4 linked regions of the Homo sapiens genome follow. The protein of the gene in region 1 purifies or fractionates together with the protein of each later gene. This does not show direct contact. Each region holds a gene or a part of one and is shown on either strand. Other genes may lie near its edges.

What was found.
Region 2: the proteins of POLK (region 1) and DCTN4 purify together in Homo sapiens (affinity purification with mass spectrometry, with the first as the bait; one large-scale study listed by BioGRID). This does not show direct contact.
Region 3: the proteins of POLK (region 1) and NLRP10 purify together in Homo sapiens (affinity purification with mass spectrometry, with the first as the bait; one large-scale study listed by BioGRID). This does not show direct contact.
Region 4: the proteins of POLK (region 1) and DHX38 purify together in Homo sapiens (affinity purification with mass spectrometry, with the first as the bait; one large-scale study listed by BioGRID). This does not show direct contact.

Annotation. Positions count from the first base shown.
Region 1 is NC_000005.10:75,577,847-75,581,404, forward strand, and holds part of POLK (DNA polymerase kappa), read left to right. Parts: intron 1-2,709; coding exon of another isoform or gene 2,710-2,751; intron 2,752-3,362; coding exon 3,363-3,558. UniProt on the Homo sapiens protein: DNA polymerase specifically involved in DNA repair. Plays an important role in translesion synthesis, where the normal high-fidelity DNA polymerases cannot proceed and DNA synthesis stalls.
Region 2 is NC_000005.10:150,707,917-150,711,013, reverse strand, and holds the end of DCTN4 (dynactin subunit 4), read left to right. Parts: 3' UTR 1-2,574; downstream 2,575-3,097. UniProt on the Homo sapiens protein: Part of the dynactin complex that activates the molecular motor dynein for ultra-processive transport along microtubules.
Region 3 is NC_000011.10:7,962,625-7,966,656, reverse strand, and holds the start of NLRP10 (NACHT, LRR and PYD domains-containing protein 10), read left to right. Parts: upstream 1-1,209; 5' UTR 1,210-1,411; intron 1,412-2,982; exon of another isoform or gene 2,983-3,116; 5' UTR 3,117-3,161; coding exon 3,162-3,450; intron 3,451-4,032.
Region 4 is NC_000016.10:72,107,312-72,110,869, forward strand, and holds part of DHX38 (pre-mRNA-splicing factor ATP-dependent RNA helicase PRP16), read left to right. Parts: intron 1-28; coding exon 29-237; intron 238-333; coding exon 334-488; intron 489-915; coding exon 916-1,071; intron 1,072-1,161; coding exon 1,162-1,296; intron 1,297-1,488; coding exon 1,489-1,614; intron 1,615-2,103; coding exon 2,104-2,199; intron 2,200-3,558. UniProt on the Homo sapiens protein: Probable ATP-binding RNA helicase. Involved in pre-mRNA splicing as component of the spliceosome.

The sequences.
Region 1 (3,558 bases):
TAAGGGATAGCTCTCTCTTTTTTTTTATAGGAGCATTAAACAATAATCATCATTTCTCGACACAGGCACAGAGCAAAAGGTTTTCCTTATTTGGTGTAACTTTATTGTTTGAGGATGTGGAACATAAAGCCTGATGTCACTTTGTATAAAATCTTACTTTATTAATTCCTTACTTTCACAAGAGAATGGGGGAAAATCATTAAATAATTATGTCAAAGCATCCCCTGAGGGCCTCCCATAACAATTACTTGCATGATGTGTTTTAAAAGCTTTACATTGGGATTAAAGTAAATGTTTTCATTTTCTACTAATTTTTTTCTTTTTTTTGAGATAGGGTCTCACTGTGTTGCCCAGGCTGGAGTGCAGTGGTGCAGTCTCAGCTCACTGCAACCTCCGCCTCCTGGGTTCAAGCAGTTCTCCTGCCTTAGACTCCCAAGTATCTGGGATTAGAGGCGCGTGCCACCACACCCGACTAATTTTTTGTATTTTTAGTAGAGGTGGGGTTTCACCATGTTGGCCAGGCTGGTCTCAAACTCCTGACCTCAGGTGATCTGCCCGCCTCGGCCTTCCAAAGTGCTGGGATTACAGGCATGAGCCACCACGCCCAGCCTACTAATGTTCTTTTCATTTATTATAATGTCCAAACTCACTATGAATATGTGAATTTTTAATATCTATTGCTTTTAACATATTTACTTGTATATTGCCCTCTTCGTGTATTTTCATATTCTTAAACAATTGGAATAGTTAAACTTTTCTTCTCATGTGTAAATACCTGTGGGCTGGACTTTCAGGCGTGTCTCACCTCACATCATGCCATGGGAAATTGTCAATAGTGCATTGGAACTGTGGAAGGCAATTGATATATCTTCCTCTAAAGTCCAAGACATTGTTTTGCTGTTTCCCCATTTTCTAAAAGGTGTTTGTCTTTGGAAATATATTGCTAACTACCATCTCTACATACAAATAAAATAATAATTTTTTAAATGTTTACTCTCCCATGTAAATCTGGATGGTGAGTGCCAGATAATATAAGAAACTGAAATACCATACACTTTTTAGCACTTGTCTTCCAAATGAAATGCTTTAATCCTAGTGTTACATTCTGATTACCTTAGTTATGGGGATTATAAAGATGTTTCTGTCACAAAGCAAATAAGAAACTACTTCAGCTCTTAGTTACACAGCCAGGCCTCACAAAAAAGTAGAAAGTAGTTCAGATTGAAAAGGTACCTGAACATTCTGCAGCAGCTCTGATAATGTGTGAGAAGGCAGCATTCTTCACTTCCTGCTGTATAGTTCTGCTCTCACAGTGGCTCACCTGAGGGCAGGGTGGTAGAGGCATGAGGTACAAAACATGGCATAAAAAACTCTGCAGAACGGGTTTATGAATGTGGCAGATAACTTACTTGGTTTGCAGTTTTTCTGTAGCTTTCTTTACCGTGACTTCTACCCATCCAGATGGGGAAAAGGGCTCCAGGTAGATACCATTTCAATTGTTTCACAGTCTTTATTTTTTTTTTATTTTTTTTTATTTTTTTGAGATGGAGTCTCACTCTGTCACCAAGGCTGGAGTACAGTGGCACAATCTCAGCTCACTGCAACCTCTGCCTCCTGGGTTGAAGTAATTCTCCTGCCCCAGCCTCCGGAGTAGCTGTGCGCCACCATTCCTGGCTCATTTTTGTATTTTTAGTAGAGATGGGGTTTCACCATGTTAGCCAGGCTGGTCTCGAACTCCTGACCTCAGGTGATCCTCCCACCTCAGCTTCCCAAAGTGCTGGGATTACAGACGTGAGCCACCTTGCCTGGCCTGTTTCCCCTCTGAATTGTTCTACATTTTAAAACCAGCATATTAAAAAATGACAGGAACTGAAGCACATAAATATCAGCTAATGTAAGTTTGAAAATAAGGCTTATTGGCGAGGCAAGGTGGTTCACATTTATAATCCTAGCACTTTAGGAGGCTGAGGTGGGAGGATCAGTTGAGGCCAGGAGTTTGAGACCACCCTGGGCAAGATTGTGAAACCCTATATTTACCAAAAAATTATAAAATTAGCTAAGCGTGATGGCTCGCGCCTGTAGTCCTAGCTATACTCCAGCCTGGGCAAGAGGGAGACCCTGTCTTAAAAAAAAAAAAAAAAAAAGAGAGAAAGAAAATAAGCTTATTGTGTATGTGCCCTGGGAATTCAGATTTGGAAAACATCTGACTGAATTAACATCTATGACTTACTTCACACTACATATTTTAAATTTTTAAATTAATCAGATGTCTGTCATATTTATTTTATATTATCTTTAAAATTTTTTCCTAAACAGCCAAATACATTTTTCAAGTAATATACATTCGTATGCATCTTAAAACTAGAAATTTAATTTTTTCTTCTGTATTGACCTTAATTTGGAAAATATTTATATGTAATAAAATTACGAGATGGGATCAGAAAGCTTTGTTGCTAACCTTGGTTGTTATAAATACATTTAAATTGTATTTCTTCTACATTAAGCCAAGAAAACAGGCTTTAATAGATTTGTTCATGGAGACATTTTTAGTATCAGTATAGATTTAAGAATATTTTACAGTCCATTTATGAAAAATATAAATATAAAGAGGCAATAACCAGACTGGTATTTTTACTTTACTTTGTAATAATAGTTTATAGCCTATTAATAATAACGTCTCTTTTTCTTAAACTTGGATTATCCAATCAGACCTTCAGAATTTGTATATTCAAAGAAGCATAACTTTCACAGGTAATTTCTATTTATTACAAATGTGCCCTTAGTCAAAGTGATACTTTATAAACAAGCAAATCAAAATTAAAATCAGCATTTGAAAGAAGAAAATTCAGATTATTTTAACATCTAAAAGGTTTCTTCCATAAATGAAGAAAAGTTAAGTGTTTTTCCTTCTAAAAACAAAACTTATTTTCAGTATAATTATTATATATTGTTTATTATATTCTAAATTCTAATTTTCGAAGATTCTTTTTCTTCCTAAAGAAGAATAAAGAAAAGATTTCCTTTTTTTTTTTTTAAGAAAAAGGTAATGTGAACTGAAACCTAATTCTGAATTTCAATTAATTTAGGTACGAACATTAGTGAGTTTTACATAAGATATTTCCTTTTAATATTTATACTGTGGAAATGGATAATAGTCTTTTTAAGAAAAATTCATAATCAGTGTTCTCTTTAATGGTTATAAAACATTAAATGATAAATGATGGCATTTCTGATCTTGGATCCTAGAAACTAAACTAAACTAGATTTTTGTTTTTGTCTTCAGAAATAATGTAGGGAAACCTAACTTATGAAGTATATACTTCTTAAAATAAAGGTGAGTTATTTTCCTGTTTATGACTTAGATAATCCAGGAAAGGAAGTTAATAAACTGAGTGAGCATGAACGATCCATCTCTCCACTACTTTTTGAAGAGAGTCCTTCTGATGTGCAGCCCCCAGGAGATCCTTTCCAAGTGAACTTTGAAGAACAAAACAATCCTCAAATACTCCAAAACTCAGTTGTTTTTGGAACATCAGCCCAGGAAGTGGTAAAGGAAAT
Region 2 (3,097 bases), about 75 Mb from region 1:
GGGAGCATAGGCAAGGCATTGGGAACACAGGGTAGCTGCTGTTGCTCTTGCTCTCACCCCTGTTGACACCAGTAAGTCTGTGTCTCCCTCACTGAACCCTGCACGTTGAGTAACAGCAGCATAATTCCATCCTAGGAAAGGGGATGGGTGTTCCTTGGAATGGCATTGTATTTACCACCTGAGAAACTCTGTACTGTCTCTTGATCTGATCTCACTAAGGATCACAATGTCACAGATGAAACTTAAATGATAACCCAAAGGTAGACCTGCTGTTAATGATCCAGCATTGGTCACAATGTACCAACTGCTTTCTGCATTCCGTTAAATATCATCTAACAGTCTAAAACATATCCCTTCATTGCCATAATGGCTGCCATTTTGCCATAGATTTCCATATAACTGAAAAACTGAATTGTCACTTTATCTTTAGTATCATGATGATTGGAAAAACCTGTGAAGTTGTTAAGGCACTCTCATTTGCCCTCTTTTTCTAAGTGAATACAGGACACGTATTAGTTGTTCTTAATTTTTTTCCCAGTAAAATATGGATCTTTTAAGAAGAATTTGAGAAGCAAACAATTACATGTCATGTCAAGGGGGTAGCAGATTCCATTCGTTTTCAATATTGCCACAATACCCAGGGATTAATGCTGCCACAGGGGGGCAATCTTTATTTGTCTTACTTCCTACCCCTTCCCTGTTCTGCCTCTTTAACTCAGTTAAGTTGTTCTGTTTGGGACCTGGAAAAGAACCCAAAGAAAACCTGAGTGGACAGGTTCATTTCTGGAATGCAGAAAACATTTTAAAGGCTAGATTTTTAGAATATTCTCAACTAGCATTCTTTCCATTGATTTGAAGGGGAAATTAACTATTATAATCTCTTGAATCCAAAACTGGATATTAAGAACTTTCCCCCTTACTAAGTTTAAGACTTTTGTCATGTGGTGAGTCAAATAAGACCATTTTGATTGTAAACCATAAAATAGTTCAGCAAGTAGCCCACAGTTCTGGCCTAACAGCAGACTTGCTGTTTTCACTTGGTATCCTGGAGTTGGGTTGCTAACCTTAATTTCTATGATGTTTTCTAAAATGAAACTTGATAAAGTAGACCACCAGCTGCACCGTGTTTTCTGTAAAAGTATTGTTAGTAAGTGGCCAAGAGACTTGAGGAAAATACAGATTTTTTGTTTACCTTGGTCTTGTTTTAAGTCTTAAAAAATTAAAGATAACATTATAATGTAGAATACAGATGGGACATAGTCCTTGTAAGCTTCCCTTGAAAATGTTTTAAATATTTAGGAAGCTTTTAAAAGACACTAAATTGTACTCTAAAAGACACTAAATTGTACTAATTGTACAAAGGTCAAGCCAATTTTATGAAACAGTCCTACAGAGTAATATATGTGATGCAGTGTAAGAAGGAAAATACTCATCTCTAACATTATGGTAATAACATTTAGCCTCTTAGGAGTTGGAGCAGGGGGATGGGTAATTACAGATTTGCAGACTATAGAAAGAGTTTCATTTTTTTGTGACCCCACAGAGTCTCAAATTTTTATTTCACTACCTGCTAGAGCCTACTGTGAAATCACTGCTCCATATTTGCCAGTGGAGGAAATGGGCATAGAGTAGAGAATAGCTTCATATGTTTACACGTTTGCATAGACTACACACATGTCATGCGTTTATGGCAGGTAGCTGGTATTTATTCCCCAAAGTAATAATGTTGAAGTATGGGTCTCATCATTCCCATACACAGAAACACAAAACACTTTGATCATAAACTTTTTTCTTCAGAAGCCAAACTAACTTGCAGAATAATAGAGCCACTGGTTTAATGTTTCCTCAAGATAGGTTTTAGTGTAAGCTAGTATTCTGTGTGTTCGTAGAAATGATTCAATACCTGCAGCTGGTGAATTAGGAATTGTATTTGTTGCCTTTTTTATATTAGATGAGGTGCAAAAATTTTAATGCTAGTCAGTATGCACCACCACAGGAAAGTTAGATCCCATTAGCACTTGAAACTACAGCTTTGGAAACTTAGGCTAAGTTAATTTGGATTTGTTACTTGATTCACCTACTGACCTTTTCTTTTGTTTGAAGTGCTTATCAGCATAATGAGCTAAGTGTCATGCATATTTGTGAAGAAACACCCTTTTTGGTCCCTTTTGGGACAGAGAGGTACTCCTTGATCTTTATGAATGACAGGTTACTGTTTTGCCTTATTGCTTAACTTAATGTAGTGAAATAAAGCAGACAAAGCTTGAGCGTGTCTTTTGTTTGCTCTCATGTAGATACTAAGTAGCATGGCTCAGAGCCAAAAGACAAGCGTGAAGTTAAGAGAGTTGGCTAAGAGAGTTGGTGGGGCATGCTCCCTTCCATTCCTTAAATGAAGTAATCTAAAATCTCTTAGCAGGTTAGTTCACCATAATATATAAGTAGATGTTGCTTTGAGCTTCTTATATACATATTCACAGAACCATTATATAAATGTTGTTAGACCTCTACCAGTTTTTATCCTGGGTCATTGCTTCTAAAGATATCCTTTACAATATACACAGTGGTCTGACTCCACCAGTGGCCACTCATCACCTTCATCTGTACCTTCATAACTGTTCCTTCCCTCCTCTTACTTAGATGAATTATTCATACTCTTCCTGTTGGAACCCAGCCCCACCTCTTAACACTGAAGCTCATCCTCTTACCTATTCACAGATAGCATCGGCAGCTCCCTCCTTCCCTTTTCCATTAGCATGTGATTTCTCTCATCTTAAAAAAGAAATTGGCCTCACTCTCCTCTTCAGCTGCCACTCCATTTCTCCACTCCCTGTACAGCAAAACTCCTCTAACTCTGACTGGGCATGATCGCTCACACCTGTAATCCCAGCGCTTTAGGAGGCCGAGGTGAGAGGATGATTTGAGGCCAGGAGTTTGAGACAAGACTGGAAAACCTAACAAGACCTTGTCTCTGTTTAAGTAAAAGTTTTTTAAAAAACAAAAATGGCCAGGTGCGGTGGCTCACACCTGTAATCCCAGCACTTTGGGAGGCTGAGGCGGGCAGATCACGAGGTCAGGAGATCGAGACCATCCTGGCTAA
Region 3 (4,032 bases), on another chromosome or scaffold:
TTCAACATTTTAGGCATTGTCTATCAACTTCCTCTTCTAGTACATTCCACCACCATCCTTTCAATGTAATTATATTTTAAATTTTAGAGCAATGTTCAGTGGTTACACTATGATTTCTATGCAAACATTATTCACACTTGAGTATATTAGTTTACTATTATATTTCCAATTTTATTTTTTGTTTCTCCTCTTGCTAGTAATTTCTTTATTTTACTTTCATTTATCTGGTTTTCTTGGAAGTTACTGCTAGCTTTTTCCACCTTCTAATAGCCTCCCAATAGGCTGTTTTAGAAGGCCAATAGCATCAGCTAGTCTAGCAAGTCTTTTTTCTTTTTTCTTGGAGACATTCTTTTTGGAGAAACCTGTTCTCTTTCTGTCAGGGCTCTTGGGGATCCTCAGCTCTCTAGGCCAGAGGACTGGCTGCCTTCTGGGAATTTGTTTTTCTCCTTTTTCTTTTTTGTTTTTTTGAGACAAAGTCTTACTTTGTTGCCCAGGTTGGAGTGCAGTGGCACAATCTCAGCTCGCTGCAACCTCCGCCTCCTGGGTTCAAGCAATTTTCCTGCCTCAGCCTCCCTAGTAGCTGAGATTACAGGCATGCACCATGATTCCCGGCTAATTTGCGTATTTTTAGTAGAGACAGGGTTTCACCATGTTGATCAGGCTGGTCTCAAACTCCTGACATCAAATGATCCACGCACCTCAGCCTCCCAAAGTGCTGGGATTACAGGCGTGAACCACCATGCCTGGCCTGTTTTTCTCCTTGTTTGAATTCCTACTTCATGGAGCTCCTATCTTCTTCCTTTTTCATTCTCCAGTGATTTCAACAACTTAGAGAAATGGTGCACTGGCGGAGGATATGGTGGTGGCAGTGCTTCAATTCTTTCGTCTCTCTAGTCAAACTGCCCCAGCCTAGGCTGGGGTTAAGTGGTAGAGGAGGAGTGTGGGTTCCAGGGAGGGATGTGGGAAGTCTCCTGGGCTCTTTTTCTCTTGGTGACAGAATAGTTCATGCCTTCCACCCCTCCCTTGTTTCTCAACTTCAACATTTGAAAAAATGAGGTCAAGTTTCCCACTGGTGAGCAATTGCCCATCCCATTGACAGTCATCCCACTGACATTCAGTGGGTGGTTCTGCTTCACAGAGGCTTGGGGCAGATGGGGAGGGGCCCTTCTGTTCCAGGCCTATATACTAGGAACTGTTAGGTATCAAGCTGTAGCTGGTAGGTACCAGCACCACCAAACAGAAGTGAACTAGTGAGTATGGGCTAAGAGAGCCCAAACTTGGACCTGTAGAGCTGTCGGACCAGGAAAGGGGATCTGTTTCGTCTCAGTCCCCAGGCTTTGCTTACTGGGCTCCTGGATCAGGGAGCTGAGTTCTCGCTGCCTCACCTCCAGCTCCCCAAGTCTGAACTGTGGTAAGCAGCCTAGACTGGACATCTTCTTGGCAGGTTCTAGTGTTGTCTTTTCTTTCCTGAATTATTAAATAGCTCTGCCAACATCAGAAATTTGCAGGGAAGCCCTGAGTCTTCCCATGCAGCCTGAAGCTTTGTTGTAAATTGATCCTGCTTTCACAGGCCTGCTTTTCCAAACTGGCCTATGACTCACAACCAAAGTCCCCTGTATCCTAACATGTTCCAAACATTTTCTTTCTCTGTCAGTATGTAGTCAAAATGTTGGTATTTGAATGGCAACAACTCTCTGTGTTCCCAAATTCTCTTTTGAACACTCTCAATGATGAATGTGACATTGTACTACTGAGATGGGTTCCCTATGGGCCTTAGGTCACAGGTGTATTTCTGGATTCTGAAGGCTTTCTATTAATTGTTGCTTTTCTTTTCCAAAGACTGCCACCTGGCCTACATTTTGGTTCTACATTAGAAACACAATTCAAAACTCTGCTCTCCTTTCCCGTTACTTTAGTATTTATACATGTCTCCAGCTTCTGGCAACATTTAGCCTAACTTTCTGGTTCCTGACTCTGTCTTCTATTTCTTTATCTTTTGAGTTTTTTCTGTCTCTCTCTTCCACCCAGGGCATAGACCAGTTTAAATCCTGCCTCTTTGCCCGGTGGCCTAGCTCTGGAAAACTCTGAAAAACCATTTTTCTCTGACTGCCAAATTTCTCATGTGGAACAGTTCCTGAGACGATTTCTGAGATGATCAAAAAGGATATGTAAATCACCTGGCACAAAGTCAGCACTCACAGGTGGCGGTTCCTCTTCCTATCATTATCTGGATTTGTTTCCTTATTTGAATTAGGAGACTTCTAGCTTTGCAATCCCTGTGTGACTGAGGCCAGGAGGCTGACATGTGAGGCCAATGGGTTGAGTGTAGATTTTTTTTACCTTCTTGCCATACCACAGCAGTTCCAGCAAATGTGCTCCAGCTTTCTATAGGTTCACACAGCCAGGGACAGTCTCACTTTTAAAACTTAAAACTTGGCCGGGCACAGTAGCTCATGCCTGTAATCCCAGCACTTTGGGAAGCCAAGGCGGGCAGATCACCTGAGGTCAGGAGATCGAGTCTAGCCGGGCCCGTATGGTGAAACCCCATCTCTACTAAAAATACAAAAGTGAGCTGGGCATGGTGGTGGGCACCTGCAATTCCAGCTACTTGGGAGGCTGAGGCAGGAGAATTGCTTGAACGTGGGATGTGGAGGTTGAGGTGAGCCGAGATCATGCCACTGCTCCCCAGCCTGGGCAACAGAGGTAGACTCTGTCTCCAAAAAAAATAAAATAAAAAACTTAGACTTTTTTTTCTTAATCCATCCGTCTAAGGAGGCATACAGAGCCTAATAAAGAACGTGTTGAGAGGGAAAGAGGAAGGGAGTGGGGGGAGAGAGAGAGACAGAGATAGAGTTTGGGGGAGAGAGAGAGAGATTGAGAGATTAACACACCTACATACCTTCCTACCCATTTGCCAACACAGTCACGTGTCACCTGACTAAGAGGCAGAGGGGAATGACTAGGAAAATTCCCCTGCGTTTCATCTGCTTGTCTTTCTTGGAGCTTTGCACATGTATCTCGTCTCTCCCTGGCCTCCGCTCTATAACTTGGCCAAGCCCCCAGAAAGCAGGGTGGGCCTCTCAGCAGTGGACCTCTCCTTTTGCCTCTTTCTCCAGGTCACTGGTCTTCTGGTCTGGACTTGATCCTTCCCCCAGATCACCATGGCCATGGCCAAGGCCAGAAAGCCCCGGGAGGCATTGCTCTGGGCCTTGAGTGACCTTGAGGAGAACGATTTCAAGAAGTTAAAGTTCTACTTACGGGATATGACCCTGTCTGAGGGCCAGCCCCCACTGGCCAGAGGGGAGTTGGAGGGCCTGATTCCGGTGGACCTGGCAGAATTACTGATTTCAAAGTATGGAGAAAAGGAGGCTGTGAAAGTTGTCCTCAAGGGCTTGAAGGTCATGAACCTGTTGGAACTTGTGGACCAGCTCAGCCATATTTGTCTGCATGGTGAGTGTGGAGCGGGGGAAGGGGAGGGCAGGATGGCACTGGGACTCCCCTCCCACCATGGCATTTCCAGAGCTGCCTGTAGCCTGTACCTTATGCCTTCTGTCACCTTGTCCTCTAGTCCCTGGTGCCCCAGAGTCCTTGGTGGTCTCCACCTGAGGGTTCCAACAACTGTCAGGAGGGGGACTGAGCCAAAGCTGGGATTTATTTAAGAAAAGACTAGCCTTTCTTCCCCACATCTTACCTCCAGCTGCAGTGGCAGAGAAGGGGAGAGTCTGAAGAAAGGGTCTTAGAGACTGGGAGGGTGTTGGTGAAGGGATTTCCACTAACCAGAAGAAATAGCATCAGGATGTAGGGGTCAGACCTGTCCCTAGCTGCTTCCTGGCAAGCTGCTCAGGCGCTTCTAAGTCTTCTGTGGCCCTGATCTCTCAAGGAACCACACTACAGAATGGGTGGTGTGGGACCTCATGGCCTGCTGGTTCTTCCTGTGGGTGCCTGGGGGGAGGGAGGGATCTTTTGGTGCCTTTGCTCCCTCCCATAGGCTCCTTTCATGCTTGAAAGCTCCTCTGCTACGTACAAATGGGA
Region 4 (3,558 bases), on another chromosome or scaffold:
TGAGAAGATGGGGTCTTCTCCCCGGCAGGCTCTACACCCAGAGCGCCTACAAGAATGAGCTCCTGACCACCACAGTGCCCGAGATCCAGAGGACTAACCTGGCCAACGTGGTGCTGCTGCTCAAGTCCCTCGGGGTGCAGGACCTGCTGCAGTTCCACTTCATGGACCCGCCCCCGGAGGACAACATGCTCAACTCTATGTATCAGCTCTGGATCCTCGGGGCCCTGGACAACACAGGTGAGGCGGCCCCGGGAGCCTCATGGGTGCTGGCGCTTGACTTCCTTCTTTCCTCTACTGTCCCGTCAAATATCCGGGTTTGCTCATCTCTCCTAGGTGGTCTGACCTCTACCGGGCGGCTGATGGTGGAGTTCCCGCTGGACCCTGCCCTGTCCAAGATGCTCATCGTGTCCTGTGACATGGGCTGCAGCTCCGAGATCCTGCTCATCGTTTCCATGCTCTCGGTCCCAGCCATCTTCTACAGGCCCAAGGTGGGGCAGCGGCTGGCTCCCCTCTCCCCGGAGGGCTCGAGGAAGTGTTGGGGAGGGGAATGGCTTCTCTCTGTATTACTGAAATGGAACAGAGGGCAGAATCAGAGTTTCTGAAGAATGATTTTGCTGTTCTCGGTTAAGCAGGTTGGGGTAGGGGAAAGGAAGGGCTGGGCCAGTGGTTCTCAGGGAATGCTTTGGAAATTTGCAAGAGCATTTTTTATCTTCTAGTATGGTTGCTCTTGAGCCCTCATGTTTTAGAGTAGACCTTTTTAAAAATTATTTTAATTTTTCTCAAATTGTCAGGGCAACCTATTGACATGTTTGAAGTTCTATGTGTGGGTAGGTGGTAGTGTTAGAACCTCTGGGATGTGCTCAGTGGGCCTGGACCCCCCTGTACTTAGAGTGAAGGTTCTTTTTCCCTTCCTAGGGTCGAGAGGAGGAGAGTGATCAAATCCGGGAGAAGTTCGCTGTTCCTGAGAGCGATCATTTGACCTACCTGAATGTTTACCTGCAGTGGAAGAACAATAATTACTCCACCATCTGGTGTAACGATCATTTCATCCATGCTAAGGCCATGCGGAAGGTAGAGTGGTGGATGAGCAGGATGTTGGGATGAGGGGAGGGTCGAGAGGAAAGGAGGGCTCCCTCCTGGTGCCTCCGTCTCCTGCCCTAGGTCCGGGAGGTGCGAGCTCAACTCAAGGACATCATGGTGCAGCAGCGGATGAGCCTGGCCTCGTGTGGCACTGACTGGGACATCGTCAGGAAGTGCATCTGTGCTGCCTATTTCCACCAAGCAGCCAAGCTCAAGGTGAACCCAGGAGCCCAGTGAGCCCCTCCCAGCCTGATACCTGTATAAGGGCAAAGTTCTTCCTTTGTCCTGGTGTGGTTCTGCAGATCTGGGCTTCCGCCAAAGGCTGTGTCAAGAGTGTTAAGGGATGGGGTCGCTGCCCAAATGGGTGTTGTTTTCCTGATGTGGCTGCCTGTTGTGTCTCCTCCCTAGGGAATCGGGGAGTACGTGAACATCCGCACAGGGATGCCCTGCCACTTGCACCCCACCAGCTCCCTTTTTGGAATGGGCTACACCCCAGATTACATAGTGTATCACGAGTTGGTCATGACCACCAAGGTGAGTCTTTTCCAAGGCACTTGCATAATGCAGGCCCCCTGTCTGGCCAGGCTTTGAAACCCTTCACTGCGTTCTGGCATGAGCTTTTAGCCTGGGAGCCTTGAGGCCACATGCATTGTTTTGCGGGGCATGTGAGGTTGGTTTTCATTTGGGGACTTGGGGAAGCTCTGCACAGGGTTGACCTCTAGACTGCATTGACCTCAGCTGCATGGGCACGATTGTTCCCCACTTGCTGCTTGGGATGAGCAACCCCTCTTGGTGTCATTAGAAGGATTTTCGGAGGGGTTGGGCCTTTTCTTTTAGATACTGGGGGCATTTTCTCAAGTGTGGAGGAGTTTGGATGGGAGTATCTGGGGTTTTTCCTTTCCTTTTTTCAGCCTTGCAGGGCCAGGGATTGGGCCCTTCCCATGTGGCTCCTAATTGTGGAACCACTCTGGGAGGGACATTGGCCCTCCTGTGACCCTCGCCTCCCTGCCCTTCTGCCCGCAGGAGTATATGCAGTGTGTGACCGCTGTGGACGGGGAGTGGCTGGCGGAGCTGGGCCCCATGTTCTATAGCGTGAAACAGGCGGGCAAGTCACGGCAGGTGAGGATTCTGTGCTCTTCGCAGGGGTGCTGTTTGCCTGTGGGGTCGGTGTTCCCTCCGCTTGGTATTGAAGACTTGCGGTCATCCAACCCACTTACTTCTCTCTGCAAACATAAAGGCTGTGATCCAGCAGGCTGGGTCTGTCTGATTCCCCACCACCCACTCCAGTTGTTTGGTAGGCTGAGCCTTTAAAAACAAAACCAAAAAACTCATTATTGAAAAGTCCAAATATTCATGAAAGTGGGAAAAACAGTACAACAGGCCACCATGAATTCGTTGCCTTGCCTCTATAATTGTCAACGTTTGTTCAATTTCACTATTCCTACCCCACTCCACACACATCCATTTTTTTTTTCTGGAATATTTTAAAGCTTATCTCATACATTATTCATCCATAAATACTTGAGTATGTGTCTCTGACTAAAAGGACTTAAAATTTTAAATATAACCTCTGTGCCGTTATCACTCATAAAAAAATGAATACTTAATGTCACCTAAGTCTCCAGTCCGCATTTGGATTTCTCCATTTATCTCAAAGATAACTTCTTATGATCGATTTGCTTGAATTAGGATCCAGGCATTGCAACTGCTTATGTGTGTTAACTGTTTCATTCTAGAACAGGCTCCACCCCACGCTTTTTTTCATGACATTGATTTATTGGAGCAGCCAGGTCATTTGTCCTGTCGAATAGTCCATATGATGTATTTGCCTCATTGCTTGCTCACAGCGGTGTTTAACCTGTGCCTGTGTTTCGTGCACTTGCTGTAAGCTGGCGATGAGTCCAACCGCTCAATTAGATCCCGGCTGAGCTGCGTGTGGCAGAGATGCCTGCATGTGGCACTGTGAACCTCCTCTTAGATGCCTTCAGGAGGCATGTGAGGTCTGGTGGCCCCACCTTTGCTGATGGGAGGATGGATGAGGGGCCCCAGTGGTGGCAGCCTGCCTCTTCCCTGATAGGTTTCCACTGCTCCTCCATCTTGAGGTTTTAGCGTCTGTTGATGGCCATTGCCTAGATCCATATTTAGGGTTGCAAAATGGTGCTGGGCTTTGGCTTACCCCTTTTCGTAGCATAATTCTCCCCATACCAGGCTCCCTTGCATCTTATGCCTGTCTCTTCCAGCCAGCAGGTAATCACATCTTCCCTGTTTTTCTGTACTTCCTAGCATAGTTGTGAACTTGATTTTTCAAAAAAGAAGGAAATGTAAGTACTTCCTGGACTGAGGGATGACTGAGTTAGGACTGATTGTCCAGTGTCTTGAGTCAGTGAAAAAAGCAGGCCTCAGCTGCAGAAGAGAAGGCGGCTTTGGTACTGGGGCAGGCAGCCATGTGGAGCACTGGCCTGGTGGATGCAGCACCTG